4 linked regions of the Homo sapiens genome follow. The protein of the gene in region 1 purifies or fractionates together with the protein of each later gene. This does not show direct contact. Each region holds a gene or a part of one and is shown in the gene's direction. Other genes may lie near its edges.

Region 1 (6,498 bases):
CCAGGGCTCAGAGAGGTGTGTTAACATGCCCAGGGTCACACAGCTTTTCAGTTGACAGTGCTGGTTTGGAACCTAGCCCTTTCTCCCTTAACCACTAGGCTTCACTGTATTGCAGGAAGATGACATTCACTTGGGAGAGAAGGGGATATGTTATTCAGGACTATTTTGATTTCAAGTGGTGGAAAGGCCACTCAAACTGACTTAAAAAGGGTTTCTTTATTGACTTGTGTGACTAAAGAGCTCAGACAGCAATGCCTTCAAGCAGAGCTGAGTGTGGGGAGGGGGGGTTCTGCTTTCCTCTATGTTGGTGTCTTTCTCAGGCGGGCTCCCTTCCCGAGAGCCCACTGCAGGTATAATCCTGTTCCCTCAGCAACCTAGCAACCAAACTAGCAACAGGATGAGTCTTTCTTCCTATTGGGCCCAACACACCCTACATCTGTCTCTCATTGGCCCGAATTGGATCAAATGCTCATCCCAGAACCAATCGCTCTAGCTGTAGCTGGGCGGCAGAATGTCTGATTGTCTTGGGCCTGGGTTTTGAGCCCACCCCAGGAGCTTGGAGGTGGGTATATCCTCGCCCTGGCCATAAGGACTGGTAGGAGAAAAGGGTTAGGGACAGTGGGGTGCTGCTGCCATCCAGGAATGTCTGGGTAGGACTAAAACAGATGTCCACCCCAGGGTAGGCCTTTGGGGCTCTTCCATGGCTGGACTGAAGCTCCTGAGGCAGCCGCAGGGAGCTCTCGATGGGTTGGGTGGGAGAACTAAGACCTTAACCAGCCCTGAGGGGCTGAGGTTGGTGCGGGGCCCAGGGACGAAGTGGCATTGAGGGAAGCTTGGTGTGACCATCTGTCTCTCTGTTCCCAGGAAAGCTCCAACCATGGCCATGGGGCTCTTCCGCGTGTGTCTGGTGGTGGTGACGGCCATCATCAACCACCCGCTGCTGTTCCCGCGGGAGAACGCCACAGTCCCCGAGAACGAGGAGGAGATCATCCGCAAGATGCAGGCGCACCAGGAGAAGCTGCAGCTGGAGCAGTTGCGCCTGGAGGAGGAGGTGGCTCGGCTGGCGGCCGAAAAGGAGGCACTGGAGCAGGTGGCGGAGGAGGGCAGGCAGCAGAACGAGACACGCGTGGCCTGGGACCTCTGGAGCACCCTCTGCATGATCCTCTTCCTGATGATCGAGGTGTGGCGGCAGGACCACCAGGAGGGGCCCTCACCTGAGTGCCTGGGCGGTGAGGAGGATGAGCTGCCTGGGCTGGGGGGCGCCCCCTTGCAGGGCCTCACCCTGCCCAACAAGGCCACGCTTGGCCACTTTTATGAGCGCTGCATCCGGGGGGCCACGGCCGATGCAGCCCGTACCCGGGAGTTCCTGGAAGGCTTCGTGGATGACTTGCTGGAAGCCCTGAGGAGCCTCTGCAACCGGGACACCGACATGGAGGTGGAGGACTTCATTGGCGTGGACAGCATGTACGAGAACTGGCAGGTGGACAGGCCACTGCTGTGCCACCTTTTCGTGCCCTTCACACCCCCCGAGCCCTACCGCTTCCACCCAGAGCTCTGGTGCTCCGGCCGCTCAGTGCCCCTGGATCGCCAGGGCTACGGCCAGATCAAGGTGGTCCGCGCCGATGGGGACACATTGAGCTGCATCTGCGGCAAGACCAAGCTCGGGGAAGACATGCTGTGTCTCCTGCACGGCAGGAACAGCATGGCGCCTCCCTGCGGCGACATGGAGAACCTGCTGTGTGCCACAGATTCCCTGTACCTGGACACGATGCAGGTCATGAAGTGGTTCCAGACGGCCCTCACCAGAGCCTGGAAGGGCATCGCCCACAAGTACGAGTTCGACCTGGCCTTTGGCCAGCTGGACAGCCCGGGGTCCCTGAAGATCAAGTTCCGTTCAGGGAAGTTCATGCCCTTCAACCTGATTCCTGTGATCCAGTGTGATGACTCGGACCTGTACTTTGTCTCCCACCTTCCCAGGGAGCCCTCTGAGGGCACCCCAGCCTCCAGCACAGACTGGCTCCTGTCCTTTGCTGTCTATGAGCGACACTTCCTCAGGACGACACTAAAGGCACTGCCCGAGGGCGCCTGCCACCTCAGCTGCCTGCAGATAGCATCCTTCCTGCTCTCCAAGCAGAGCCGCCTGACCGGTCCCAGCGGGCTCAGCAGCTACCACCTGAAGACGGCCCTACTGCACCTCCTACTCCTCCGGCAGGCCGCCGACTGGAAGGCGGGGCAGCTGGACGCTCGTCTGCACGAGTTGCTGTGCTTCCTGGAGAAGAGCTTGCTCCAGAAGAAGCTCCACCACTTCTTCATCGGCAACCGCAAGGTGCCTGAGGCCATGGGACTCCCTGAGGCCGTGCTCAGGGCCGAGCCCCTCAACCTCTTCCGGCCCTTCGTCCTGCAGCGAAGCCTTTACCGTAAGACACTGGACTCCTTCTATGAGATGCTCAAGAATGCCCCAGCGCTCATTAGCGAGTATTCCCTACATGTCCCCTCAGACCAGCCTACCCCAAAAAGCTGACGTCTTTTACAGAATGTGGGATCCTCGAGCTAAGATGAGGGCATCCCTCACGTTCACACCCCTGGTGGCATCTGCCAGCCCTGTTCTGGGGACAAGGCGGGCTTTCGTGGGAGCCGTGCTCAGCCTGCCAGGAAGCCAAGCCCTACAGTGCAGAGGAAACAGAATTTCAACGGGAAGCTGGTTTGCTTCATACCATTGGGATCTGCTGGTAAAGCTGTTATTTGGGTTTAGGGACTGATCCCTTGCAGTTTACTTCTGGATCACCATGAATGGCCAAGATGGTGGCAGAACACGCTGTGGACCCTGAGTTAGAGACAATGCAAATGTTGGATTGGGTGTAATTCTTTTTGAATCCCAGATCCAGTCTGTACTTGAATATGAGCAGAGGATCTACAAGAATGCTGACAGGGAACCGTGTTAAGACCCAGCACCCCTATTCCCAGGAGCTTCTGGCCTGACCATCTGCAGCCAAAGCACTAACAGGGACAGATATGGGAATGTCCACCTTTGATCCGCATCCTGCACAATAGTGGTCCCACCATGGCTGCCACTTTTTTATACTATTTGGAGAAAAGACCTTGTATAAATTCGAGGCCCAAATGACTAACGTCTCTGTCACACGGAAATGGGTACTTGGTGGCATAGAGAAACACAATTAGCCACTTTTTCAGCTACACTTCTCACTCAGCTGCACCCTACACTTCTCACTCAGGTGCACCCCCTTCTGCTGTCCTTTCCCCAACGTACTGGGTCCCGAGCGTGGTGGGTATTTGCCACACTGGGTGCCAGCTCAGCAGCCCCCCACCTCTCTTTATTCTCTCCAAAGCTGGTCTTTCTGACTATCATTGTGGTAGGGGGAGGACAGATGCTAAAGGTGGAAGCTGACCTGGAGAAAGAGACACACGGGGTGACTGTGGCAAAGGACAGCTGGAAAAGAAACTCTATCACTTCTTCATTGGCAACCACAAGGCACCTGAGGCCATGGCACTCCCAGAGGCTGTGCGCAGAGCCAAGCCTCTCAACCTCTTCTGGCCCTGCGTCCTGCAGCGAAGTCTCTGCTGTAAGACAGTAGACTCCTTCGATGAGGTGCTCAAAAATGCTACCCGGGGTGGTGGTGTCTGGCTTGCAGTCTGGCCCAGTTCAGAGAAAGTTGCAGAGATCAGGGGCCAAGGATGTCATAGCCCCAGGTTGTCCTCAGGGTCCCAATCCTAGGGCAGGGTGTGCATGGAAGCAAGAACTATGGAAACCTAGCTCCAGTCTGCAGGCTCTGAGCCCCTAGTTCCTCACTCCAGCGGGGCTCCCTCACTGCACAGAACCCACCCCTTCTGTGTGGGCACTGCTGACCACACAGATGACCCAGACCCAAAGAGCCTGGCAGAAGCTCTGTGGTTGGAGCTGGGCTCCGTCTCCAGGTCTGGTTCAGGGGGATCAGGAAGGCTCTTTTCCACCTGTGGCTTCACTGGCCCTTTGAGATTTCCTATCTCACCGTTACTTCAGTTACCCTTGCAGGGGGCCAGGGAGTCAAGAATATACCGTGTTCCTCCAGGGTTTAAGCCGGCCATGCCTTCCCGAGAGCATAACCAACTTGACAGGGGTGCCCAGTTACCCCACAAACTGAAGGAAGGAGATCCTTCCCCCATCCCCAGGAGTGCTCTCAACCAGCCTCAGAAAGCTTGAGAAGATGGACCCTTTGCCCACCAGGGTTAATTCCTGGTGGGGCAGCTCGGCTGTGATCAGGGCAACCAAACCTATAGGAAGCCTTCCAGTGTGAGCTGGAATTAGACTGAACATGTGCTTGGGCCTGCCTCTCCCTAGACGCAGTTGCGGGGCACTCCAGGGAATGAACCAGCTCAAGTGTGTCCCTAACAGCAGCCTGGAGCTACCCCCAATCCCTCACAGCCTGACCCTCCTCATTCCATCAGATGCATTTGTAGAATCGGGGCAAATTTCCTTATTTATTTATGGCCCATGCCTTTCCCCCTCTTCATCCTGATCCCGTTTTGCTTTGAAGAGACCCCAGTAACCAAAAAACAGCCTCCAGAAGCCAAAACCATGCCTGGATCTCCCATAGCTTCTCCTTTGCTTCCAGGAGAAAGTTCACTGAAAAAAAAATATCTTCTGGCTTCTTGTGTGTACAGAGACAACAGAACTCGGTGGGGAAACGGGAATCTTTTCTGCACCAAAGCTGCTTCTAAAGCAGAAAGCAGTGGGGCTCTTGGTGTTTCATGCTGCCTTATTTATATTAAAGGAAGAATTAAATCTTGCAAGGAGTAGAAATGGTCACTGTTTGTTTTTAACTTCAGGAAATCTGTGAGGCTCCCAGGGCAGAGTTGGGGACAGGGGGGTGGATTTCCTATTGACAAAGCAGAAGCTTTCACTCCCTTTTTATTCTTACACTTTCAGGAGACTTTAAAAAATAACAAAACAGAACATTTCTACCCTGTCTTTGAGGCAACTTGTGTGCTGCCCGCAGGGCTCCAGAAAGGGCCTTTGAAAGCTGGCTGTAGGGTGGATTCCAGCCTAAGACCTTATTTCACAGAGCTAATGTCAGCGAGAAATATAGGAGCTGGAACTAACAGGAAGCTTTTGGGTTTTAAAGAAAGAGATTGTATTTTAAATAGAGGATTTTGAGTCCTCTAGGGGACTTTGGCCTTTCCACTAAGGACAACCCTGCCCTCTTTCCCCAGAGTCTCTTTCCCAAGGATGCTTGACTTTCCCCAGCAACTGCTCACTTGCTTTGCAAAATAACAAGGGTGAAATGAATAGAGTTGGCCCCTAGGCCAAGAGGCTGGTTATGTTGGGGAAGGGCCTTATATCCTCAAAAGCTCTAGCCCCTCTGCATGCCTGGCTGAAGCACAGCCCCCGTTGAGAACCTGGGGGTGGAGCTCTGGTTCATCATCAAGGGTGTCATCCGAATCACCCAGACAACCTGGTCCATTGCCCCGACCCCGCCTTGAACCTACATGGTGCTCAGAATCCAGTCTGGAGTGGTCAGGCTAGGCTCGATTTTTAAAGATTTCCCCCAAGTGACTGATGGTACCCCTAGCTGAGGAAGCCCTCTCACTTTCTTTCTTAATGGAAAGTTAAAGAAAACCCAAGTGGACTACTTTCCCTACAGATCTATTGGAAGATAGATAGACCTGGGAAAAGCCAATGAGCCTGCTTGGAATCTGTGGTCTAAGTGGCATCAGCTACACCACAAGCTTCTCATGAGGGCACCCACATTCACGCTAGTGCCGTAAGCCTCAGAGAGAGGGTGGGAAGGCATAAGATGGTGAGCCCTTCTCCCAAGCAGGTCATGAATAGTCCACAAGCATTTGTCAGGAGCCTAACGTGCATGAGACATTGTGGAAGATGGGAAAATGAATAGGACCAAGCCTGTTCCCTAGGAGAGGCAGCAGAAGGTGGCCTTCCAAGTACTGAGCTATTCCAAGTGTGACCCTGCACTACACATACGGGTGTCACCTGGGGGCAGCTTCCTGGGCCGTGTCACAGACTCCAGTGGGATCCTGAGAAGTTAGGTAGAAGAATCTGCACTTCACCAAGTTCCCCACCTGATTCTGGATGTCCAAGAACCACTGGTACCTGGGCTGATTAGGGAAGGCCTCATGGTGGGGCGCTGCCAGATAGAGACTCTGAAAAATGACCAGGACTGTGGCCAGGAAAGACATTCCAGCCAGAAGCATGGAGTGAGGGTGGGAAGCACCTACTGTATGGCAGGCACCGTTCCGCACACACATTTGTTAATGCACACAGTTCCATGTCAGTCCTATGATGTAGGTGCTATTCTTATCCTCCCTGCTTTCCAGATAAGGAAACAGGCACTGAAGGGGCAACTGACTTACCTACTGTCACAGTGGTAAGTAGCACAGCCCAGATTCCAACCCAGGCAGTCCTGGTGTACATGTTGGCATATACTGAGAAGTCGTAGCAAATGAGGTTGAAAAGATAAGAGTGGGGCTGAACCATGCAAAGCC
Region 2 (7,365 bases), on another chromosome or scaffold:
TGGTAGGATGGTGAGGAAACTCCTGAATACTGGAGGTGGCAGGGGAGATCTGGGGACTGAGTTGGGCATTTTAAAGACTCACAACCAACAAACTCTGTTTTTATTTTTATTTTTTATTTTTTTGAGACAAGGTCTCATTCTGTTGCCCAGGCTGGAGTGCAGTGGTATGATTTTGACTCACTGCAGCCTCCATCTCCTGGGCAGGATCCACCTCACCCACCTGAGTAGCTGGAGACACAAGTGCAGGCCACCATACCCAGCTAATTTTTGTTTTCTTTTTGTAGAATCAGGGTTTTGCCATGTTGCCCAGGCTGGTCTGGAACTCCTGGTCTCAAGCGATCCTCCTGCCTTGGCCTCCCAAAGAGTTGGGATCACAGGCATGAGCCGCCATGCCTGGCCAACAATCGCTGTTTTTAGCCTCTTCCTTCATCCCCTCTTCAGAGGTTACTGATGCCCCCAGTTCTCAAGTGCTTCCAAGGTTGTGAGGCTTCTCCTTGTCTCCTGCCAACACCACACCTCTCCCCACTGCAGGCACTTGGGTTCAACTTTTTTTGGTCTGCTAAACGTCTTACCAGGTGCCACCTACTTGTAGCCTCCAAAATTTAGCTGACATCTCCCATCTCTGCAGTTGTTTTCTTTCCCATTGTTCTGTCTTTGTGCCTGTTTTCTAAGGAGTAGCTTTACCTCTCCCATGGTAGGGTACAGGGTTTCCTGTACCCTGTGTCTTCTTTCATGATTTACTCTCTCATTTTGTTGGAGCACATCCTCCAGCAGCTTCCTGAGAGGCTTTGTGCCTCCTTTCTTCCCCATTGTACTGTTTTTCATGCCTCTTTTCTTTCCCATTGTTCTGTGGCTTTGTGCCTATTTTATTCATTCCCTCTCATTTTAGTGGGGCTTTAAGGGGCAGACATAAATTTGCTCTATTGAAGCAGAAGTTTATTAGTTCATTTTAAAATGGAGGAAAATGAGGGCAGAGGAGAGACAGATCCTACCCAAAGCCGCACGATGAGTTAATGGCAGGGCTGGATGGGGTTTACCTGTTGCTTTCTCCCAAACACCGTCCCCCTGGGTAGAGACTGGGATCCTGGGGAAGCCCCCAGAAAGACTGCTTTTTGGGAAGGGGAGTGTATCAGGCGGAGCTGCTAATGGCAGCCATTACTTGGTGGTCAAGGATTCTGGAGTCTTAGAGACCTGGCTTTAGGCAGGTTTAAGTAAAGCAAGACCCTTTGCCCTTCATCCTCAGCTTCCTCATCTGTGAAATGCAGGAGTGGTGAGTCAAATAAGATGCTGCATGTCCTACTCTTGGGACATGCCAGACACCTAGAAGTTAGAGGTTGCTCTTTTATCATCATGGTGATGGCATGCACCTTTTTCAGGGCCGGAGCCAGTTCTTGGAGGAGACTCTGCACAGGGCATGGATCACTGTGGTGCCCTTTTCCTGTGCCTGTGCCTTCTGACTTTGCAGAATGCAACAACAGGTAAGGGGGCTCTGCTGAACTGGGGGCAGCCCTAGCCCAGTCGTGGGACTGTGATGCAAAAGGGGGAGGCGTCAAACCATGGGAGATTGAAAAGGGCCACTTAGGCTTCCTGGGGGCAGCAGGAGCTGCTTGTGAACTAGACTCTCAGGGTGGGATGGAAAGCCCAGAGGTTGTGGGGCCAGAGGGCAGTTGAGACACAAACTGAGGGGGAGGTGTGTCCCCACAGAGACATGGGAAGAACTCCTGAGCTACATGGAGAATATGCAGGTGTCCAGGGGCCGGAGCTCAGTTTTTTCCTCTCGGTGAGTTGGATGTGCCTCCCACCCCAAGCCTGCACCTTGAATCAGTGGGTCAGGGTTAGTCTAATGTAGACTCTTAACTGTGCATTTCTTCAGCACTTTTATTGAGCACCTACTGCATGCCTGACACTAGGCTCTGGGGATGCAGGATGGGCATGTCACTGCCCTCATGAAGTTTATCATCGAGGAATGGGGGCCCTTAATCATAGATGTCATGACACTAAGTGCAGAATTATGGGTCTCCATGCATTTTCCTGGGAAGGGGGTCTAAGATTCTGGCTGGGCTCTCCAGGGTCTATGACCCAAAGACTGAGCAGCTCTAGGTGAGCGGCCAATGCTGAAGACTGGTCAGGGCTAAGAGTGGCTACTGGGAAGCTGTGAGGGAGCAGTCAGGGAAGGCTTCCTGGAGGAGGTGACAATAAACTGGGACCTGAACAGGAGTTAATCAAGAGGAGGGGATAGATGGGGTAGGGAGGTAACAGTGTGCCAAGGACACTGTGTGTGCAGTGGTCTGGAGGTGCGTGTGACAGAGGTGTGGGTGGGGAGGCCCTGCCCTCCCAGGCTGTCTACAGCCCCCTCTCACCCTTACCCCACTCCGGGCTCTGGCCTCCCTGGCCATCTCTCTGGGCTGCAGTCAACTCCACCAGCTGGAGCAGATGCTACTGAACACCAGCTTCCCAGGCTACAACCTGACCTTGCAGACACCCACCATCCAGTCTCTGGCCTTCAAGCTGAGCTGTGACTTCTCTGGCCTCTCGCTGACCAGTGCCACTCTGAAGCGGGTGCCCCAGGTCAGAGGCTGCGGGTTGGGGGGTGTGGCCAGCTGCCCCGCCCTAGAAGTCCTCCAGGCATTTAAGGTCTGGACTTTCTTTAGGCTCCACTGTCTTCCTCCCCACACCCCACAGTCCAGGCTCTGCCCTAACTGGCAGTGAGTTGCCTCCTCTGTAAAATGGGGCTCATACTCGCTGTGTGAACTGTGGAAAGGGAGGTGCTTTATTGCCCCTGCAGGGCAGAATCTTCTTCCTGCTTTGGCTGGAGGCTGCCCGCTGCGGGAGGCGCTGTGGGAGAGGCCAGAAACCCTGGCTCCTTTTAGGACCCTGGGGTGATCAGCTGGATCCCTGGCAGGGGCTGGGGCTGGTGCTGGGGCTGGGTGCTGAGGTAGCTCCATCTTCAGGGGTTCAGTGGGTCAGGTAAACATCCAAAACTCAGGAACAGCATGGAGGGAAGGCCTGGGATCTTGGGAAGTTTGGGAGGAGATGCAGCCTGGGGGGAGAAGGTTCTGTGGGTGGAAACCCCAAGGAAGGTTTCACGGGGAGTGGGAGGCAGTGAAGGTGTTGGGGTCAGGTCTCCAGGTCCTGGTTGCCAAACAGCCTGTTTGCGACCCTCTGCAGGCAGGAGGTCAGCATGCCCGGGGTCAGCACGCCATGCAGTTCCCCGCCGAGCTGACCCGGGACGCCTGCAAGACCCGCCCCAGGGAGCTGCGGCTCATCTGTATCTACTTCTCCAACACCCACTTTTTCAAGGTCAGTGTGATGGCGGGCCAAGGAGGGTGGGTGCCGGCCCCTTCTTGGGATCCACTGCAGGTGCCCATGTCACTGCCTGGCCTCTGGGTGACCAGCACTGAGTGAGACCAACCAGCCATCTGTGCAATCCAAGCCAGCAATTGTCCCTCTCTGGGCCTCAGTTTCCCTGCCAACTTTAGCAGAATGGTAGGAAGGTATAATTACAATCTGCAAATAAGACCTAAGAAACCTACGATGTGCCTGTCGGTAGGCGGGAGACAGACAAGAAGGCACTTATTATTCCCTGCCCTCAGATAACTCTCTGTCTTGATGCCTAGACTAAGACCTTACAGATTTTTTTTTTTTTTTTTGGCAGAGTCTCGCTCTGTTGCCCAGGCTGGAGTGCAGTGGCATGATCTCGGCTCACTGCAACCTCTGCCTCCTGGGTTCAAGCAATTCCCCTGCCTCAGCCTCCTGGGATTACAGGCGTGTGCCATCATGCCCAGCTAATTTTCGTATTTTTAGTAGAGACCGGGTTTAACCACGTTGGCCAGGCTGATCTTGAACTCCTGGCCTCAAGTGATCCGCCTGCCTTGGCCTCCCAAAATGCTAGGATTATAGGCGTGAGCCACTGAGCCTGGCCTGATCTTAGAGATTTAATGTCAGCAGAAGGTTGATTATAGCCATAGAGATCCAGAGTGATGGATGAGTCAGGGTGGGGTTGGGGCTCTTCCCAGTGGGCAGTCCAGGGGAGTTTCTGGGGAAGGTGCCTTTCAACCTTGGCTTTGAAAGTGAGTGAGGATAGTGGTGAGGTGGAGGGCGTGAGGCTGGAATGCATTAAACGAATGGGAGGTGGAGCAGGGGGTGGTGAGAGGACAGCTTTCCACAGGGCAGAAACAGCACATGCAAAGGCTGGGAGGCTGGGAAGGCTGGGAGGCTGGGAGGCTGAGAAAGCTTTCACGCTGCACACGTGAAAGTCTTGCTGCTTGTTCTCATCCAGGGAAGCGGAGCTCAGACCTTACCCAGGGCCTCCCCATTTCCCCTCCACTCAGCCCTTCTCCTGCTGCCCTTCCAGGATGAAAACAACTCATCTCTGCTGAATAACTACGTCCTGGGGGCCCAGCTGAGTCATGGGCACGTGAACAACCTCAGGGATCCTGTGAACATCAGCTTCTGGCACAACCAAAGCCTGGTACTGCTGGGGGCGCCCCCGTTTCCACTGCACCCCTGCCCCTCTGTGACTCTCCTGTTGAACACTGGTTTGACTAGACCCAAACCTGTGGAACCATCTTGGAAATCCATCACACTTTGAAAATTCCTGCTCAAGAAATAAGAGAGAGAGAAGTTTTTACTCATGCATTTGTCAGAATTCTTTCAGTTGCAAGTAAGAAAAGACCACTTCAAGCCAGCTTGAGCACAGAGGGAACTGATTGGCACACATCCATGAAATGTCTAGAGGTGATCCACCAGCTTCAGACATAGCTGGATCCAGGGATGGATCTGATGCCCTTGTGGCTCAGTCTCTCTCCGTCTCAGCAATGGTCTCCTGTCTTGGCTGTCCATTCTGTGGCATGATGGATGCTGGAGAGCCAGACTTCCTTTCCCTCTTCCCATCAGGCTCTTCCCCCGACTCCCCACCCACAACCTGCCCCAGTGCAGATCAGGGTCTCAGGATCTTAAAGGTTCAGCTGGGTCACACATGTCCATCCCTGCACCTGTCACTGTGCCCAGGGGGATGGAATGTGTGGATTGGCCAGGCCTGGGTCACACGGCCCAGGGACTGGGGTGAAGGAGTGAGCTCCTAGGGTAAGTGCAGATGCTGATCCTGGAACAGAGACAGGGCTGCTTGTTGGGGGTGGGGGCAGAGTGGGGTGGTTCACAAGCCTCAGTGCCTCCATTTCTGGTTCCTGGCATTCCTGAAAAGCCCGGAGCCTCTGCTTTCTGGCTTCATCTTCCCTTCAGCTTCACCAGGACTGCCCTGCACTCTAAATTTCACCATCATCCTTTCCTTTCAGCTCTGGGCTTTTGCCACTATGGTTCCCTCCACCTGGAATGCCCTTGCCCTACTCGTGTTGAAATCCAACACGTCCTCTAAGGGTTCAGGGCCCCCACCTCCCCTTCTCCCTTTGGGTCAGCTCTGCCTACCCTCCATGGTCTTCCGTGACTACCTGTGTCATTTCCTCCACTTCTCCACCCACGTGGCTTGGCATTAGGGTTGTCTGTGGATGAGTCTCCCCCAACCAGGCGTGGGTCTGAGCACATTGCTGTTCCCCATGGGGAGGAAGGGAAGGGATCAGCTGGTTATGGAGCGCCTACTGTATAAAAGGCCAGAGCTGGACACTCAAGATTCCGTGTTGCCCTTTGTTTTTCCACCATTGTTGTAACATGGGTACGAATGATCCTATTCTGTAGATGACTAAACTGAGGCTCAGAGCAACTTGGTGTCTTGCCTGGGTCACTCTGAGAGCCCACAGTGGAGGTGGGACAGGAATCTGAGACTGTCTGAAGCCAAAGGCCAGCCAGTGCCTGGTAAAATGTTGGCAAATGTGCAGTTGAGTCACCGTTGGCCCCCAGGACTCCCAGACACTGATCTGCAGCCTTTCCTCTGCACCCTATGACTGACCCAGCATCTCCACCCAGGAAGGCTACACCCTGACCTGTGTCTTCTGGAAGGAGGGAGCCAGGAAACAGCCCTGGGGGGGCTGGAGCCCTGAGGGCTGTCGTACAGAGCAGCCCTCCCACTCTCAGGTGCTCTGCCGCTGCAACCACCTCACCTACTTTGCTGTTCTCATGGTATGTATGCATCCTGAGTGGGGCTCAGAGCTACAGAGGGCCCTGTGTCTGTGGCAGAGGAGCAAGGCAAAAGCTGGTGCAAGGGACAGAAAGTCCAACTGAAATGGGCTTAAGCAAAAAACAAAAAAAACTTTATGGACTCATGTTTCTGGAAAGGCTGGGTTAGGCTTCAGGCATGGCTTGATCCACGGGCTGATCACTAAGATCACTAAGATAGCACTCTATCTTTGTCCCTCAACTGTGCTTGCTCTGTGCTGGCTTAGCCCTCAAATAGGATCTCCTTATGAGATAATAATATAGCTGGCAGCAGTTCCAGGCTCATGCCCTGCTAGCTTTCAGGCCAGTGGAATAAAATCTTCTTTTACCCAGTTCTGCCAGCCATGTGCTCATCCCTGACCCAATCGCTATAGGCAGAAGGAGGGAGGGCCCTGCTTGACCAGGCCTGGCACCCCTTTCTGCACAAAGAGGGCAAAGTGGTGGAACCCCACAGGTGCATAGGGAGTGGGAGAAGGGAGGCACTCATAGAAGAAGAGGGAGATGGGAGATGTGGAGGGGGCAAAACTGACTGTATCTGCCATGGCCTTGTTCAAGCCAGGTCCATGGCTAGGCTTGTGGGGAAGGGGACTTGGAGAGGAGGCCTCAGGAGGTCCCTCTGACTGAGGCTGGGAGGAAGGGCGATACTATGCTTCTGGCCTCCAGCCCCTCTTCCCTCCTGCAGCAACTCTCCCCAGCCCTGGTCCCTGCAGAGTTGCTGGCACCTCTTACGTACATCTCCCTCGTGGGCTGCAGCATCTCCATCGTGGCCTCGCTGATCACAGTCCTGCTGCACTTCCATTTCAGGTATTCCGCTGCCACAGTGCTGGGCCTGCCCTGCACTGTGGCACATCACGCTTCCTTGTGTCCCATTTAGTCCACTAGAACTGGGTGTGCTTCTCCAGAGGGTGGGGACCAGGAGGCGGGAGACCAGCCTTGTGGTGCGACTGCTGTGGGATCCCTGCCCCTTCTTCGCCTCAGTTTCCCTGTCGGCATGCACCTATGCACCCAGTGGGTAGTGCTGCCTGGGTGATGTCCCTGGGCCATGGAGGACCATTCTCTCACCTGCAGGAAGCAGAGTGACTCCTTAACACGCATCCACATGAACCTGCATGCCTCCGTGCTGCTCCTGAACATCGCCTTCCTGCTGAGCCCCGCATTCGCAATGTCTCCTGTGCCCGGGTCAGCATGCACGGCTCTGGCCGCTGCCCTGCACTACGCGCTGCTCAGCTGCCTCACCTGGATGGCCATCGAGGGCTT
Region 3 (8,066 bases), on another chromosome or scaffold:
AATACGGATCGACTGATGGATGGAAGAATTGTTATATATAGATGTGAATGAGCAAGCATGGTAAAATGTCGAGTGTAGGTTTTCCTGTGGGATTCAAATTTTTATAATTCAACATTGGAAAATGTTTTGATCTTAGAAATGTTTCATAAACTTCTCGGTTTCAGTTTCTGCAAAATGGAAGTAACGGTATTTACTTCACAAGGTTTTTGTGAAGCTTTTAAAAAATTGCCATGAAAATAGGCATGCTCTATGGTAGATGTTTACGAGCCCTGTGAAGCTGCTTGTCTTTCATCCCCTCTTCCCCGCTGTGCCAGTTTATAAGTCAGGATAGGTGTTTTTGGATTTGGTAGCATTGCCTATGAGCAGTGGTCCAAAGTGGTATGTAGCAAAATTATTGGGGTTATGAAGAATGAACTGTCTGCTGTCTGCTGATTATGAATTCCTTGAGTGGAGGAACAGATTTTAATAATGGAAGTGGCTCAAACTCCAGGGAAGATGGATAGCCTGTGGTTATACTTGGTCTAAAGGAATTGGCAGAAACAGAGAGGAAGGACAAAATGTCATAGGCAATCATCATATGGATTTTAATATTTAAAAACTAAATAGTTATTTAGTCACTAAAAGCTCTATTTGTGAGCACTCATTTATCTAACAAATATTTATTAAGTGTCTACTGCATGCCTGGCATTGTGTTAGGAGCTGGACGAATGTGCAAGATAGAAATAGGTGCCTGCCCTCTTGGAGCATACATTCTAGTGTTGCTAAAGTTTATTGGATTTACAGGGATCAGTCTGTCAGCCAGCAAATACTTACTGAGTATTTGCTGAGTGCCAGACACGCAGAATACTATAATAAACTAAACAAACATAGTCCATACTCTCATAGAGTTTGCAATCTAGCAGAAAAGGCAGATTTAATTGAATCACCGCATTTAACTGTATTAAATACATTATGGTGTGCAAAAGGCTGGGAAGGAGAAGTACAGGGTTCGTAACAGAATTGAGGCAGAGTTTCCCCCCTCTAGTCTGGGTGAAAAAAATTTTCTCCCCTAAACTTTTCTCTGAGTTAAGAGATTGAGGTAAGTACAAACAGAGCTTGAGATAGCCAGTGGCCCCGGTCAGGTCACCAGCAGAATAAAGAACAGAATTAGGAGCACCAGGAGGTGATGTTGTCAGTTGCATTGCTGAGCATTCTTTTTGACTCCTGGTTGGCTTACTATGCCTGTGGATCTCCTGTATGGTTTGGCTACACAAAACAGAGTGAGAACTGTTGAACTGCTTTTAACCATAGTAAAGTATTCTGGAATTAGTTTTGTCTTCTGTCTAGTCAAGCACTATAGCAAACACTCTAACACTCCCATGGGGCCAAGAAGCTGCTAGAAACACAGGTTGTGGGATCACGAAACAAAGCAATGATACAACTAACCCATTGCAAGAACATTTTCCCCCTAATGAGGTCATTGGTTCTGAGCAGAAAGAAGTTAGAAGCCAAGAGAATATAGAGAACTTATGGGAAACATATGTGTCTCACAGATAGAAACTGGGACTCCTATATAATTATAATGCACCCTGGGAACAAATAAAATGAGTTGTTTCAAACCATGGTTGCGTTACACATTCTTTAGTGGGGACACTGATGTGTGGGATTCTGAACTTCTCACCCTCTTAATCATAAGGGGCCTGGATTATGCCTGGAGGACTTCCATTTTCTAGCACTATCAGCAGACATACAACGGGTACATAATAAAGACTAGTTGAATTATTATAGGTTTGTTTCCATTTGCTACCTGTTTCCCTGAAAGATAAGAAAAATATAGAATTATTTAATGACAAGCAAAGGAAATGTACAAATAAGTGAATTTAGAACTTTGAAGTGATTCAGTTAAAATGTTGAAAAGAAGTAACAAAAATTTAGCTTCTGCTTATACAAGCACAAATTTGTTTTTCTGTCCAGAGAAATGCCTATGACTAAAAGCCATATTTCACGGCATCTTCTTAAAGTCGAGTAGGTCTGAAACCATAGGAAGCCAAGAAAATTAGAGAAGGACAAGGCTGGGAAGTTAGAATATAGGAGAGTTACAGCTTTAGACCTCCTGGATTCATAATCTCAGCTCTACCACTGATTAGCTGTGAGACTGTAGCCAAGTTACCCAACCTCCATTTCCTCTTCTATAATGTTGGTACCTGCCTCAAAGTCATCATCTGCGTTATTGCGCTTAGCACAATTTCTGGCACATAAGTGCTCCACACATGTTAGTTTTTATTCCAAATGATTTTTAAGATGATCTCAATTTCCTCTATAAGGCTTTTTTTTTTAATAAACATGATTTGTTGAATGAATAACTGAAGGTAAAATGTCATAACCCTGTAAGACTTTTTTATAAATATGTTCACAAATCAGAAAAAGATCCTCTCTCATGACCTGATTTTGTTTGAGATTACATGTCCACCACACGCACACAATGGGCCACTTAGTCTGGCCTCTCTGAGTGAGGAGTATCCTCCTCCTACCTACGCAAACATGAAACCTAACAGAGGATTCAGTGTTAATTTGTCTCTTAAAGACAATTCTGCATTAAGAAATGGATTACTTTGCTATAACCTCAGCATATAAAAAGTCTAAAGAATCTGTGCATTCTGAGTTTGTGTATTTTTGGTCTCAGGCTGTGATTTATCTGAAAGGCCTTGGAGAGAAAGATATAGGCCTTTACCTAGACCAAAATCAGGTTGAAACAATAAAGGTATTTTATGCTTTGTGTAAGCTGGTAAATACCATGACTTTTGGAATAACAGTCTTGCTGAAAAATTGACACACTTTTCCTTCTGGTATGTCTTTGCATAAATTGTTCCTCTTTCTGCAAGATTAACTGATACCATCTGTGAGTATTCTATCCCCACTCTCAGCTTGCATTTAAATCTGCATGTTTCCTTTCTCTGCCTCTTTTCAAAGGTGCTAGAATACAAGAGCTACCCTTAGCTAATGGCCAAACACTCCGTCTGAGTTCCCTTTCTTTTAACCCCTTGCTTCCAACTCTGCATCTAAAGGCAAAAACAATCCTCTGACTCACGGCCCTCCCCCTGCCTGTGATAGGCTGCTTGGAATAGCAACAGCCTGTGTCACCGAAAAGGGCAAAGCCTTCGGAAATAGAAACAAAGTTGGTCACAAATCACATTAGCTTTGCCCGAAGTTTTTCCCCACACTCTTCTTTAGCATGCTATTATGGGGAAAGTGACCACTCCTGGGAGCGGGGGTGGTCGGGGCGGTTTGGTGGCGGGGAAGCGGCTGTAACTTCTACGTGACCATGGTACCTGTTGAAAACACCGAGGGCCCCAGTCTGCTGAACCAGAAGGGGACAGCCGTGGAGACGGAGGGCAGCGGCAGCCGGCATCCTCCCTGGGCGAGAGGTAAAGTGAGCCTGCAGTGCTCGGGTGACCGCAGAGAAGCAAGCTGTACTCATCTCCCGAGTGTACTGTCTCTTGAGTCCCGTGTGTGTGTGTGTGTGTGTGTGTGTGTGTGTGTGTGTGTGTGTGTATGCGCGCGCGCGCATGTGGGCGCGCTGGATGAGTGGAGAGAAGGGGACAGGGTCTGGTGGGACGTGGGACAGCTCGGAGCTGTAATGTTGTGAAGATCGAAGTCTTGGTGGAACCTTATGTGCCAAGAAAATACAGGTTACACATCCACCACTGGTATGATGGGTCCCCTTGATTGTGTTTACATAATACAATGTATGGATGTTTTTCATATTGGAACGGTCCACTGGCAAAGATAGTCTCATTTGTAAACACACACAAGCACACGCTTGCTTACACTTTTTCATTTATTGTCACAAATGGACACTGTGTAACCAGTTGACATTATAACCACTGTTTTAAAAATCAGTATTTTAAACAGGCTTCATAAAATTATTAGTTATGTAATCAATGAGAACACAAACTTCCTTTTTAAATTCCCAGCACGTTTGTGATGAATTTGAGCGTTATTCAGAGCCTGAAACGCTTGCTTTGCTGGGTTCTGCCTTCTTTAAAACTGGCCTTGCAAACTGAGGTTTGTTTGCTATGATGACCTTCTGAAGGTGAAATTTGGAAAAGTTTTAATTCATTTAATGATCTTTGATAAATCAGAGGCTGGTCTTCACTTCCACATTTACAATTCCCACAAATACATTGTACGCTTTTTGCTGCCTCTTCCTGCTCATTTAGTTTGTGCTGCAAGGAATAGAAAGTAATTGTAATATGAAATGACAACAAACACAAAAAATCTTCTCTTTCCTACTACTTTCCTCAGCTGTGTATTCTTAATCAGATATTACATTCCCAAGCAGCATATAGAAATTTCATGCAAAATCCAATACACTAAATGATACAAAAGACATCTGCCTTTCTCTTGGGAATGGTCCTAATACTGACGTTTGCCTTGTGGGTTTGTCTGATCTTGGGGAATCGAACCTGTGACCCCTAACATCGAGGCATGAAGCGGCCCTCTTCAGGAGTGGAGAAGCCCTCCATCTTCCATGTCCTGATCTCTTCTCTTGCTTTCACACTTCTCGTCAAGAATGAGGCCGGGCGTGGTGGCTCATGCCTGTAATCTCAGCACTTTGGGAGGCCAAGGTGGGCAGATCACTTGAGGCCAGGAGTTCAAGACAAGCCTGGCCAACAGAGCGGAAACCCTATCTCTACTAAAAATACAGAAAAATAAAAAAATTAGCTGAGCATAGTGGCACATGCCTGTAATCTCAGCTACTCAGGAGGCTGAGGTACAAGAATCACTTGGAGGTTACAGTGAGCTGAGATCATGACACTGCACTCCAGCCTGGGTGACAGAGTGAAACTCTGTCTAACATAATAATAATAATAATAATAAAAGAATATCTGGGGTCATCTTTCAATATGGCCTGTCCTCTCCTATGCAGAAGTACCCTTTTCCCTAAGCGCTTGCTACTCATTGGCCCACAAGTTCCCTAAGAGCAGGCAAGGGAAACTTATATTTGGAGATAAAGGGAAAGAGTTGCAAAGTTCTTTTCTCCAAATTCCTGGGAACATGAGCTGCAGTCTAGACTGCAGAGCAAGCTGAGGTGGTGATGTTAACAAAAGGGCTCACTAAATACAGTCAGTGATAATGTCACAAAGAAGATGAAAAGAAACTGCCTAGGAAGAGCCTTTGTAGTAACCATTAAAAATGGACTGTTTATTTTGATATGGCTTTGAAGGTACAATGTGCTCTTAATAGCTTATATTGTACAAATTCACAATTATCCAGAAGAAAGATAATGTGTATTTACATTTGCAATAGTTGGTTACATGCACAAAATTCAACTTAAAGTGCAACTGTTTATGTTGTAAAGAAATAATAAATGAATAAGTACCATAAATTATCTTTCAAATTTAATTTTAAATTAACTTTCATTTTGTAGAAGAGAAAGCCTGAATGTTTCCTTAAAATGTCAGATGAATACAACTTTGATTTGTGCTATACATAATCTGCATTTAGATGAATGCAAACCTTTTATTTTCTACTTTTGTAAATTTTCTTAACTTATCTTAAACATCTTTTGGCACCCAAAAGCAATTATACATACATATGTATAAATGAATGCATAGTGCAGACTTGCTGTATGGTTTTCTTAAGTTACTTAAAGTCTCCATTCATTAATATTGGGATTGTATCTTCATCTATTTTATGAAGGTGTTGAGATTTAATGAGGTAATATTTGTCAAATACTCCTTTTGGCTTCTTCATATTTTCAACTTCCATAGTTTTCATTTAAGACATTCAGAGTATTTAAATTATGCTCAACAATTATCACAATATGTCTGCATTTGAAGGTAGCAAGCTTTTCTACATTCCTAGATGGAAAAATCAAAGCACAAAGAGGAATGAGTTATATAACTCAGGACAAGGTAATTAAATCATGTGAGATACTGAAAAACAAAACAAAACCAACCCCCTAAGGTCTGCAGTTGAACTCCCTTGATGCTATTGTGCACAGTGAAAAATTTTGGTAGGTCTTTCTTGACTAACCCTCTTTAACTGAAAAGAATGCTTTGTTCCAATGACTAGAAGCTAATGAACTTAATTCATTTTCAATAAGCTATGACTCAAAGTGGTTACATTTTTAGTAAATTTTTTCAGCTTTCATGGACATGTTCCAATCCATCTTAATATAGGACAGGATTAAGCTCAGTTTGAAATTCTGGTGCCTAGAGTTGACAACAGATATAAATGAAGTGAGATATTAGACGGATGGAGCAACTCACACAAGGGAAATCTGAGGTCAAAAGATGTGTGATCGGCCCACGGTCACACAGAGGATGGTGCAGAACTGACCCTGGTGGCCTCTGGCCCAGGAGATTCAATACTGACTTCTACTTCAGCTCCCAGGCTTCCTTTATTTCATGATCCAAACAATTGGCTGGGGACAGAGTCCTCTTAAGTTTCCCTTCACCCCCAACTGTCCAAAGGTTCAGAAAACAAGAACAATATTTACTGTATGAGTGCAGGTTGTCAGCACTGCAGAACTCTCTGGCACTGGGACCCAGAACATGAAGAACGGGACTCACGAACTCAGCTGAAAGGACTGTCCTTTATCCCCTCTGAAGATGCCACAGTCTGGAATTTAAGAAATACACGCTTCTGCTCAGCAGATGAACATTCTAAGGCAGTTGTTCTCAAAACGCTTTTAAAGCTGTGAACTCCTTTTTCCTAAATGGAAGCTGGGCAGGTGGTGAGTATGTAAGATGTAACTGTAACTAAGTTCCTACTGAGTGCTGTTCTCCCGGGTTTAGCTTAAAATGGGCCCCCTGGAATTTCGTCAGGCCTGGCTTTCTCAGGCTTCGTCAGTCAGCTCTAGGGGAAGTCAACTTGTAAAAGAGACGGAGACTTGGAAACAAACTCATCCTTAGGGAAGAGGGAGTCAGGCCAACCAGCTTGGGCAGATGTCAGAGCTTTGGTTGTGAGAAGACAGATTCTAGTAAGAGGCCAGTTACCTTGGGCAGACCCAGGCATCTCAGAGTTTTTGATGCTGGGCCATTCCCATTTTTCCACACTTTCTATATATTAAAAACAATTAAGCATCAAAACCCGTGACAAAAATTATAGTGCTTTAAAAACATATGTATTTAACAAGTCAACATCTGATAACAATGATTGTGTCTACTGTGATACGTATTTCCAAGGAAATAACAGGTTTTTTTGTTGTTGTTGTTTTGTTTTTTCTGAGATGAAGTCTCGCTCTGTCACCTAGGCTGGAGTAAGATGGCGCGATCTTGGCTCACTGCAACCTCTGCCTCCCAGTTTCAAGTGATTTTTGTGCCTCAGCATCCTGAGCAGCTGGCTAATTTTTGTATTTTTAGTAGAGATGGGGTTTTACCATGCTGGCCAGGCTGGTCTCCAACTCCTAACCTCAGGTGATCCGCCTACCTTGGCCTCCCAAACTGCTGGGATTACGGGTGTGATCCACAGTGCCTGGCTGGAAATGACAGGATTTTTAGACGTGTTCATTTATGGAGGACCACTTGCTCTTCTGTGTGGTCATGAGACCAGATTTAAACATAAATATCTCCCCTTTCAGTCCAGTCAGCGTATCTCTGTGACTGTACATTTAACCTCACTTGGAAATCACATCAAAAGTCTAGATTTGAGGCTTTTCACCACTGTGAGCACTGGGCAAATGGCTCCTCTGGGATCTCTTGGGAAGGGAAAAGGCTGCGAACATGGTGGGAGATGTTTCTCTGCAAACTCTGGGTGCTATGCATCGTACGCGGCAGTGGTCTTGCTCCTCTCTAAGGATGTGTCACCCAGAGAGAGCAGAGAGGTTGCCACAGACCCCCTCCCAGGCTCTGAAGCAGCAGCAGACACACGCTGCAGGAAGCCTGCCCTGCCAGGGCCTGGCAGAGCCAGACCAAGCCAGCCTGAGAGCAGCCGGCCAAGAGGTTGGGCCCATCTGAGCAGGCTGAGATTAGCTGGTGCACACCAGCATGCCTGAACCAGTTTTTACAGCCATTCTGATAGGTCGGTGCCTCTGTCCTAGTTGTTAAATATTCTCAACATCACCGTTCTCTCTGTCAGAT
Region 4 (7,365 bases), on another chromosome or scaffold:
CATCTCTGTCATCATGGAGAGTGTGGGCAGGGGACCCCTGGCCCTCTTCCTTCTTCTCCTGCCCCGGGGGGAGCAGCAGAGAGCCAAGGGGCTGGAGGAGGGTAAAGACGTTATTCATATTTCCATTTGCTTCCTTTACATTTTGATTTTTCAGGCCAGTTGGGATTTATTGTTGTATTCAGGGAGTTAAGAGATAAGGTTATTTTATCCCAACGAAGTAACTGTTGGTTTTCACCTCATGTATTAAATATTGCACCTTTCCCCATCAAATTGAAAGGCCCCTTTTCTGGTTCACTGTGTTTCCCTAAACACAGGCCCAGGTCTGTGTCTGTCTCATGGGTCTGTGTCCTGGAGGTGCATCATCTGTTTAAATTACAGAACCTTATTTAGCTACTATATTTTAATATCCTGCAGGCAAATAAGCCTCTAAAGATTTTTTCATTTTTCATTTACTTTTGACAATTCTTACACATTTATTTTTCCATATGAGCTTTCAGATGACTTTGTCCAGTTCCTAGACACATGAAATTCAAGTTCCAGTTACATTAGTTACACACTTTCCATTGGGAGGGGACCACATCACAGCCCCCACAGAGAGGCAGCAAAGGTCCTGGAAGTCAGAGTCTCCACCATGGCCAGAAAGTGGAGTGCAGCCCCCCTTCCCCAGGTGTGCACCAGCCCCACCCCTCACAGACACCGGCAGGGGCTCAGCCCACAGCTTCCTGGGCAGAAGAGACAGGGCCTGTGTCCCTGGAAATGTCACCATCCCTTACTCCACAGCCAGAGGGCAAAGGGCTTCTTAGATCAGGACAAGGCCCTGTTGGTAATGATCACAACTGCAGAGAATTCATGCAGACTTTTGCTTAGTTCAGCAGTCAAGGTGTATGGCTTACTGGGAAAAGTTCATTCCCTTTCAAACGACCCATTAAGTCTTCTATGAAATTGCTTTTCTTAGAAGGGTAATTGGCAAAACTACTGTGTAGATCCGAAGCACTTGAATATCACTTCAAACTATCATGTAACTATGGTCTTTTAAGTAAAATACAAAAATGCTTTCTCTGTGATGCATTTTGGGCAAGATTAATAGAAATGTAACTATAACCGGAATTACAAACTTTCTCTCTAAAACCAAAACAAAAGGAAAAACTAAAGTTGTGTAATGATTGCCAAATCGACATGTATATGTTGTAGAAAATTAGGGAATGGCAAGGATTTCCAGGTAAAAATGAAGGTCACCTGACCCACCTGACACCCCTGTGACATGTATGATGTGCTGTTTTATAAAATTACAGTCACCTTGTAGCCCAGTGTAGACCAGCTACACTAACGGAGGACACTACCTGTCTAAGGCACTGGTCTAGGGTGGGGCTCGCAGACTTCAGGGAGGTACTGCTTTACAGAATCCAAGTGGGAAGGAGTCCTGGTCCTTTACACGAGAAGCTCCTTCTGTTTCCCACTGTGCAGTAACCCGGGAGCACTCACACAACCTCCCGGGAGCTGCTGGTCTCCAGTTTCTGAGACACATGGGCCCCACTGCAGTGGTGCTTACAGGACACACTGTAGCCTCCAGTGCCATCCTGAGCGCCCTACAAAACTGTGGTGTGTTTCTTTCCTTCTGTTTGCCCCACCAGAGCCAAGGCCAGGAACTCCCGGCTGATTTGCAGGCGCCTGTGTCAGTTCTCCACTCGTGTACACCCAGACGGGGGCTCGATGGCACAGGTAAGTTGCAATCACTGGCGCTGTCCCCGAGGACAGGGCCATGTGCAGAATGTGTGGTCTGAGGTCCCCCAAGCTGAGGTTAAGGTAGTATTCAAAAGGGAAGCACTCTGTGTCCAAGGGTGCTGCTCACATGGGAATGATGGTGGGTGGAGCACAGAAGAGAGATGGAGTGAGAGGCAGGAATGCTTCCCAGCTGTGGGTGAGAGAGACAGACGGGTACCAAAGTGGGAGCCCTCAGCACTGCAGTGCCACCATCAGGCTGCGGTGATGGGCAGATGCCCAGGGCAGGCTCTGAAGTGCCCAGAACATGCAGTGAGGGACAGTGCCGTGATAAAGGATGGAGGGAAATTGGTAGCCATGGCAGAAGCTGTGTGCTGTGGTTTTAAAATAAAATGCTTAGGAAAGACTGTGTGTAGGAGACAGATGGGAATAGAGATGTGTTTGTGGTCACATGTGCACGTATGTGTTGGTGTGGTTTTGTGTGTGGTGTGTGGTCATGTATATGTGTGTGAATGGTGTGTGTTTGTTACATGGATACATGGACTCTGTGTCCGTCCTTCACGGGAAAAGCCCTGTGTGGCTACCGGCTTTAGGGCCACATATTTCTGTTCCTGCTCTGGGGTCAGCTTCCAGCGGTTTCTACTGGGTTGTTATTTATTTTTTGGAGATGGGATCTCACTCTGTCACCCAGCATGGATTATAGTGGTGGGATAATGGCTCACTGCAGCCTCCACCTCCTGGGCTCAAGCGATCTTCCCACCTCAGCCTCCCGAGTAGCTGAAACTACAGGCGTGTGCCACCACACCCAGCCAATTTATTTCTTATTTCTTAAGAGATGGGGTCTCACTCTGTTGCCCGTGCTGGTTTGGAACTTCTGGTCTCAAGCAAGCCTCTGGCCTCAGCCTCCCATAGCAGGGCGATTACAGGCATGAGCCACTGTACTAGGCTGTGGGGGAATCCATCTGAGAAGGCTTTGTGAGGCGGCCAGCTTCTGGAGGTTACAGGTGTCTTCTCCTTCCCTGTTGGGGCAGGGCCGCCTCACCACACTTCCCCAGGACTTCAGGGAACAGGCTCTTGAGACTTGGAAATGAAAAGGGATCAGCCAGCCTGGAGGAACAGCGACGCTGGCGTCCAAGCCTTGCCCCTTCCCTGCACTTCCAGCAAAGATATGGAGACACTCAGTGGAAACCGATTGGGCCCCCAGCCTGCCCCGCCCAGACTCACCCACCAACGTTCCCTCACTCCATGTGGCACACAGGCTCACAGGATTTTCTCTGCCTGCAATCGTCCACATGCACACCTGCTGCCGGGGTGCAATTGTGAGTCCCCTCGGTCTCTCTGCAGCATCTCGGTGTAGATGACGATTTACAGTCACCCTTGTGTGAAGCCACATGAGGCCTGGTCTGAAGCAGAGAAGATCCGCTCAGCATCACGTTGGATCCCAAGCCCGCGTCTCCGTGGGCTCCAGGACAATCCTATGAAAATAACACCGTCGGTTCATTGTTCACATCGGGGAGGAGAATTCCATCTGAAAATGCACGTGACTTCACTGACACCCGCGTCCGTGGCACAGCCCTGTGCTGAGCTCCACAGACCTACAGTCCATCGCCTCCCCTTCGAGAGGGCCCAGGGCTGCAGACAGCGTTGTCCATAGAAGACACCCTGACTCGATGAATGGAACAAACTGGAAACTCCAGAAACAAGCCCTTCTTTATATTTCTGGTGTTTGGCTTAAATGGAAGGTGCCAAGGTGAGGCAATGGGGAGACATGGAAGGGTGTGTAATGAGTGTGCTGCAGCAGCTGCATAACCACATGCCAAACACACACACACAGCTCAGTCCCACCTAGAAAGCAGTGCACAATCCATCAGAGACCTCATATTTAGAGAGGAAAGTTTAACCTCCCTAGAAAACTCACAGAATATGTTTTTTTAATACTAAATATACAGTTGTCCTCTTAAATTGGTTAAGAGCACAAAACGTAACAGGCAGAAGGTCTGTTTCAAACAAATTAAAAAGCTATGTTTTTTCAAGTGTGTTTTTAAAGTTTTCCCCAAGTGAGATATATACATACCCACAAAAATAGTGTGTGAAGGAAAGCTGTCATACGGAAGGAGTTGTGTCCTGAATTCTTCAAGGAAACACATATGGAAATATGAATTGATAGAGACAGCAACACATTAATAATTTTTTAAAATTGAATCTTAAAATGCTGCATGGCACAAAGCTATAGTATAAAGTATTGATAAGTACAAAGGGAAAAGTCTGTACAGCTTTTAGCAAAAATGCTTTTGCAGAAAAGCAAATTAAAATAATGCAAACAGCATACCGAGGTGGCCACAGCTTGACCTCAGAGCTACAACTTCTCATATCTGTGTCAGAAAATCCTATGTATCCAGAATAGAGTAAAATTTCAGGACAAAACATGGACTTTTTAACAGTTCTTACTTTACCCATTTTAAGTTATTTTTATCTCCCCTACCCCCCAGGGCAGTAATTCAGCAAGATCCAGCAGAAAGAGGGCTATTTGATGTTTCTTCCCATGGGGAGAGTGTCAGGGAGCCTGGACATTTCAGGCTCATGCATCCATGACCAGTCTCCCACTGGGGTCAGAAAAATTCAGCCATAGACTTGGTGAACTTGGCTTCCCGCTGCTGCTTTGTTCTCCTGCTGATGAAGGTCAGCTTCAGGGTGTATCTGCCATCAAACCTTTTAAGACTGGAGGGCAGCTCCCAAATAGCATCAGAATCCACTCCTGTAGGCTCTTTTCTGTGGGCCACGAGAAAGATGGTCTTCTCCTTAGATGAGGTCTAAATAGTCAGAATTCCCATCATCACAAAGCCAAAACGGGCTTGGACTCTGGAAAGGGATGCATATAATCCCAAATCACAGCCACTATGGCAAAGCAACAGGAGATTGTACAGATGGTGAGGTGACCGTCAATTAGACAAAAATTCTCCACGTATTTGTATTTTTCCAGAAGTATCTTTTTGGCAGAATCATCCAGAGTTTTTCACAGCTGATCCATCCCACTTGTCCGTTTTTCCAGGCATATCACTTATCTTCGACTTATCCACATGCCGCTACGGCCACTGCCTGTCCCGCAGCTGGAACCCCCGCCAACCCCACCACCGCCTGCGCTACCGCCCCCCTCCCGCCCGTGCAGCTGCTGCCGCCATCTGTCCGCCTCTGAGTCTCCCTCCAGAGAATATCTTTGTGATCTTCTGTTAAGCAATGTCTTCTTTGATAGATCCCAAAAACATTATTTCCGAAAAAAGAAGAATAAATGTGACTTTAAGCATTTAAAAATTTCCCTTCAATTGACACCATTAAGAGAATGAAAATATAAGCCACAGACTGAAATAAAATATTTTCAAGTCATATACTTGTATCCAGAATATTTAAAGAATTTTCAAAACTCAGCAATAAGAAAACTCTGTTTTCAAATGGGCAAAAGATTTGAACACAAAACTTCCACAAGGCAATAATATGAACGACAAAGCACATGAAAAGCTGCTCAACATCATTTCCCACCTGGGATCCACGAGCTAAAACCACAATAAGATAGCATGGCACCCATGTTAGAAAGGCTACAATAAAAATGATCAACAAGATAAGCCAGGCACAGTGGCTCATGCCTGAAATCCCAGCACTTTGGGAGTCCAAGGAGGCAGAAGGATGGTTGGAGGCTAGGAGTTTGAGACCAGCCTGGGCAACCTATCTTTAAAAAAATTAATTTTTAAAAAGATGAACAATACCAAGTGTTGGTGAATATGTGGGAGAATTGGAAGTCTCATCCATTGCTGATGGGGATGAAAGATGATGCCACATCGCCAAGCAGTTTGGCAAAGCTTCTGATGCTGAGTAGGTACTTATGATATGACCCAACACTCTCACCCCCAGATTCTTACCCAAGAGCAATGAAAGCAAGACTCTGTCTCTAAAAAATATAATTAAAAAGAAGATGAACAATACCAAGTGTTGGTGAAGACATCGGAGAACTGGAAGTCTCATGTATTGCTCATGGGGATGAAAGATGATGCCACATTGGCGAGCAGTTTGGCAAAGCTTCAGATGCTGAGCATGTACTTATCATATGAGCCAGCACTCCCACTCCCAGGTTCTTAACCAAGAGCACTGAGAACAACGTGTGTGCACACATAGCAGGTGTTTTTCTTTGCTAGAGCTTCCACAAGCAGGAACCACACATGGGGTGTTGGAACAAGAAATGTATTTTCTCACATATCTGCAGGCTGGAAGTCCCAGAGCACGGTGTCTGCAGGGTTGGTGTCTCCCAAGGCCTCTCTCCTTGCCTTGTAGATGGCCACCTGTTCTCTGTGTCCTCCCAGTCTTCCCTCAGTTTGTGTCTCTGTCATAATCTCCCCTTCATAAAAGGACACCAGTCACTCTGGATTAGGGCTCACTCTAGTAGCCTCATCTAACATCCATTACCTCTTTCAAGACCCTGTCTCCACATATAGTCACATTCTGAGGTACTGGGAGTCAGGATGTCAACCTATGAATTTGGAGGAGGATATAGTTCAGCCCATAATACAAGGATTGGGAGGAAGGGTGCTGTGTCACCACTGAGATCCTATTCCATGATCCAGGCATTCTTGAAGTACCATTACTCAGAACTGACTAGTAATGAACTTGAATTTTAAGAATAAGTTTAATGTCAACAAGGTCTTTGTTCATCCTATGAATTTTGCATCCCTTCCCCCCACAGGAAGCAGATGATGCCCCGAGTATATCTACACTTGGGTAAGTTCGTAAGTTTAACGGGAACGTTTTGTCTGTCTCTACACTTGCCTGAACTCAAATTACATAGGAAAATATGTTCTCTATTTAACATGTTCAAATAATCTGATGACATAAGGGAAAGTAGAAATGTTTCTCTGAACATTTATAGCCATTCATGTGGCTTATTGCACTCATCTTACTTGAAAAAATTATAGAATTCTTTATAACTAACATTTGAACTTACGCACAAAAATAAGGCCAAGCGTAGTTATTTTCTTTCTTTAAACACGTGTAATGTTGTCAGCCTGAATGTTTTTTAATGTTTCTAATAGTGTTTCATTGAGAGTCAGATCTTGTCATTTCAACTCTAAATACATCCACTGATGACAGCTCTGCCCCAACACTGCACAATTCCAGCCCAACTGCACACCACTTTTTCACCCTCCAAACTACAAAGCTGAAAGAAGACCCTTATAAAGAGGACCATGATCCAGTTTTAAGCACACATTCTAAAGGGTACCCTGTTCCCATGATGAAATAAAATTGTACAGCCATGACAAATGCATATTCTTCCCAGAGAATCTCAAGTACAGGATACACTTCTCACAGAACATAGAGTAATAGGAAATCTACTCACACATGATGCTGAGTAAATTATTTACTCCTTGTTTGCTGTTTCATTTTTCTTTCCATAAAATGAACATATATTAACTTTATATTTTAAAAAGCAGCTTTATACAACATTTCCCAGAGTTTTAGGGTTTAGATATTGCGCTCCTACACTCTACTAAAGTTTCATCTAGAACCATTTAATACAACCTAAAAGAAAATGAAGTGGAAAGGTAAGAGTCATTGGCTCAAACCACCCCAGGTGCACAGACACAGGCACGTGCACACACACAC

Evidence for each region.
Region 2: the proteins of ITPRIP (region 1) and ADGRG5 purify together in Homo sapiens (co-immunoprecipitation; one large-scale study listed by IntAct). This does not show direct contact.
Region 3: the proteins of ITPRIP (region 1) and SLC2A12 purify together in Homo sapiens (co-immunoprecipitation; one large-scale study listed by IntAct). This does not show direct contact.
Region 4: the proteins of ITPRIP (region 1) and ZDHHC11 purify together in Homo sapiens (co-immunoprecipitation; one large-scale study listed by IntAct). This does not show direct contact.

What each region holds. Positions count from the first base shown.
Region 1 is NC_000010.11:104,310,431-104,316,928, reverse strand, and holds part of ITPRIP (inositol 1,4,5-trisphosphate receptor-interacting protein precursor), read left to right. Parts: intron 1-864; coding exon of another isoform or gene 865-877; coding exon 878-2,521; 3' UTR 2,522-6,498. UniProt on the Homo sapiens protein: Enhances Ca(2+)-mediated inhibition of inositol 1,4,5-triphosphate receptor (ITPR) Ca(2+) release.
Region 2 is NC_000016.10:57,560,680-57,568,044, forward strand, and holds part of ADGRG5 (adhesion G-protein coupled receptor G5 isoform 1 precursor), read left to right. Parts: intron 1-1,376; coding exon of another isoform or gene 1,377-1,414; coding exon 1,415-1,478; intron 1,479-1,704; coding exon 1,705-1,780; intron 1,781-2,411; coding exon 2,412-2,568; intron 2,569-3,168; coding exon 3,169-3,300; intron 3,301-4,354; coding exon 4,355-4,471; intron 4,472-4,609; exon of another isoform or gene 4,610-5,919; coding exon 5,920-6,072; exon of another isoform or gene 6,073-6,790; coding exon 6,791-6,912; exon of another isoform or gene 6,913-7,170; intron 7,171-7,176; coding exon 7,177-7,365. UniProt on the Homo sapiens protein: Orphan adhesion G-protein coupled receptor (aGPCR). Ligand binding causes a conformation change that triggers signaling via guanine nucleotide-binding proteins (G proteins) and modulates the activity of downstream effectors, such as adenylate cyclase.
Region 3 is NC_000006.12:134,047,716-134,055,781, reverse strand, and holds the start of SLC2A12 (solute carrier family 2, facilitated glucose transporter member 12), read left to right. Parts: upstream 1-3,157; 5' UTR 3,158-3,301; coding exon 3,302-3,404; intron 3,405-8,066. UniProt on the Homo sapiens protein: Insulin-independent facilitative glucose transporter.
Region 4 is NC_000005.10:813,879-821,243, reverse strand, and holds part of ZDHHC11 (palmitoyltransferase ZDHHC11), read left to right. Parts: exon of another isoform or gene 1-101; intron 102-1,631; coding exon 1,632-1,719; intron 1,720-3,952; exon of another isoform or gene 3,953-4,917; intron 4,918-6,448; coding exon 6,449-6,483; intron 6,484-7,365. UniProt on the Homo sapiens protein: Endoplasmic reticulum-localized palmitoyltransferase that could catalyze the addition of palmitate onto various protein substrates and be involved in a variety of cellular processes.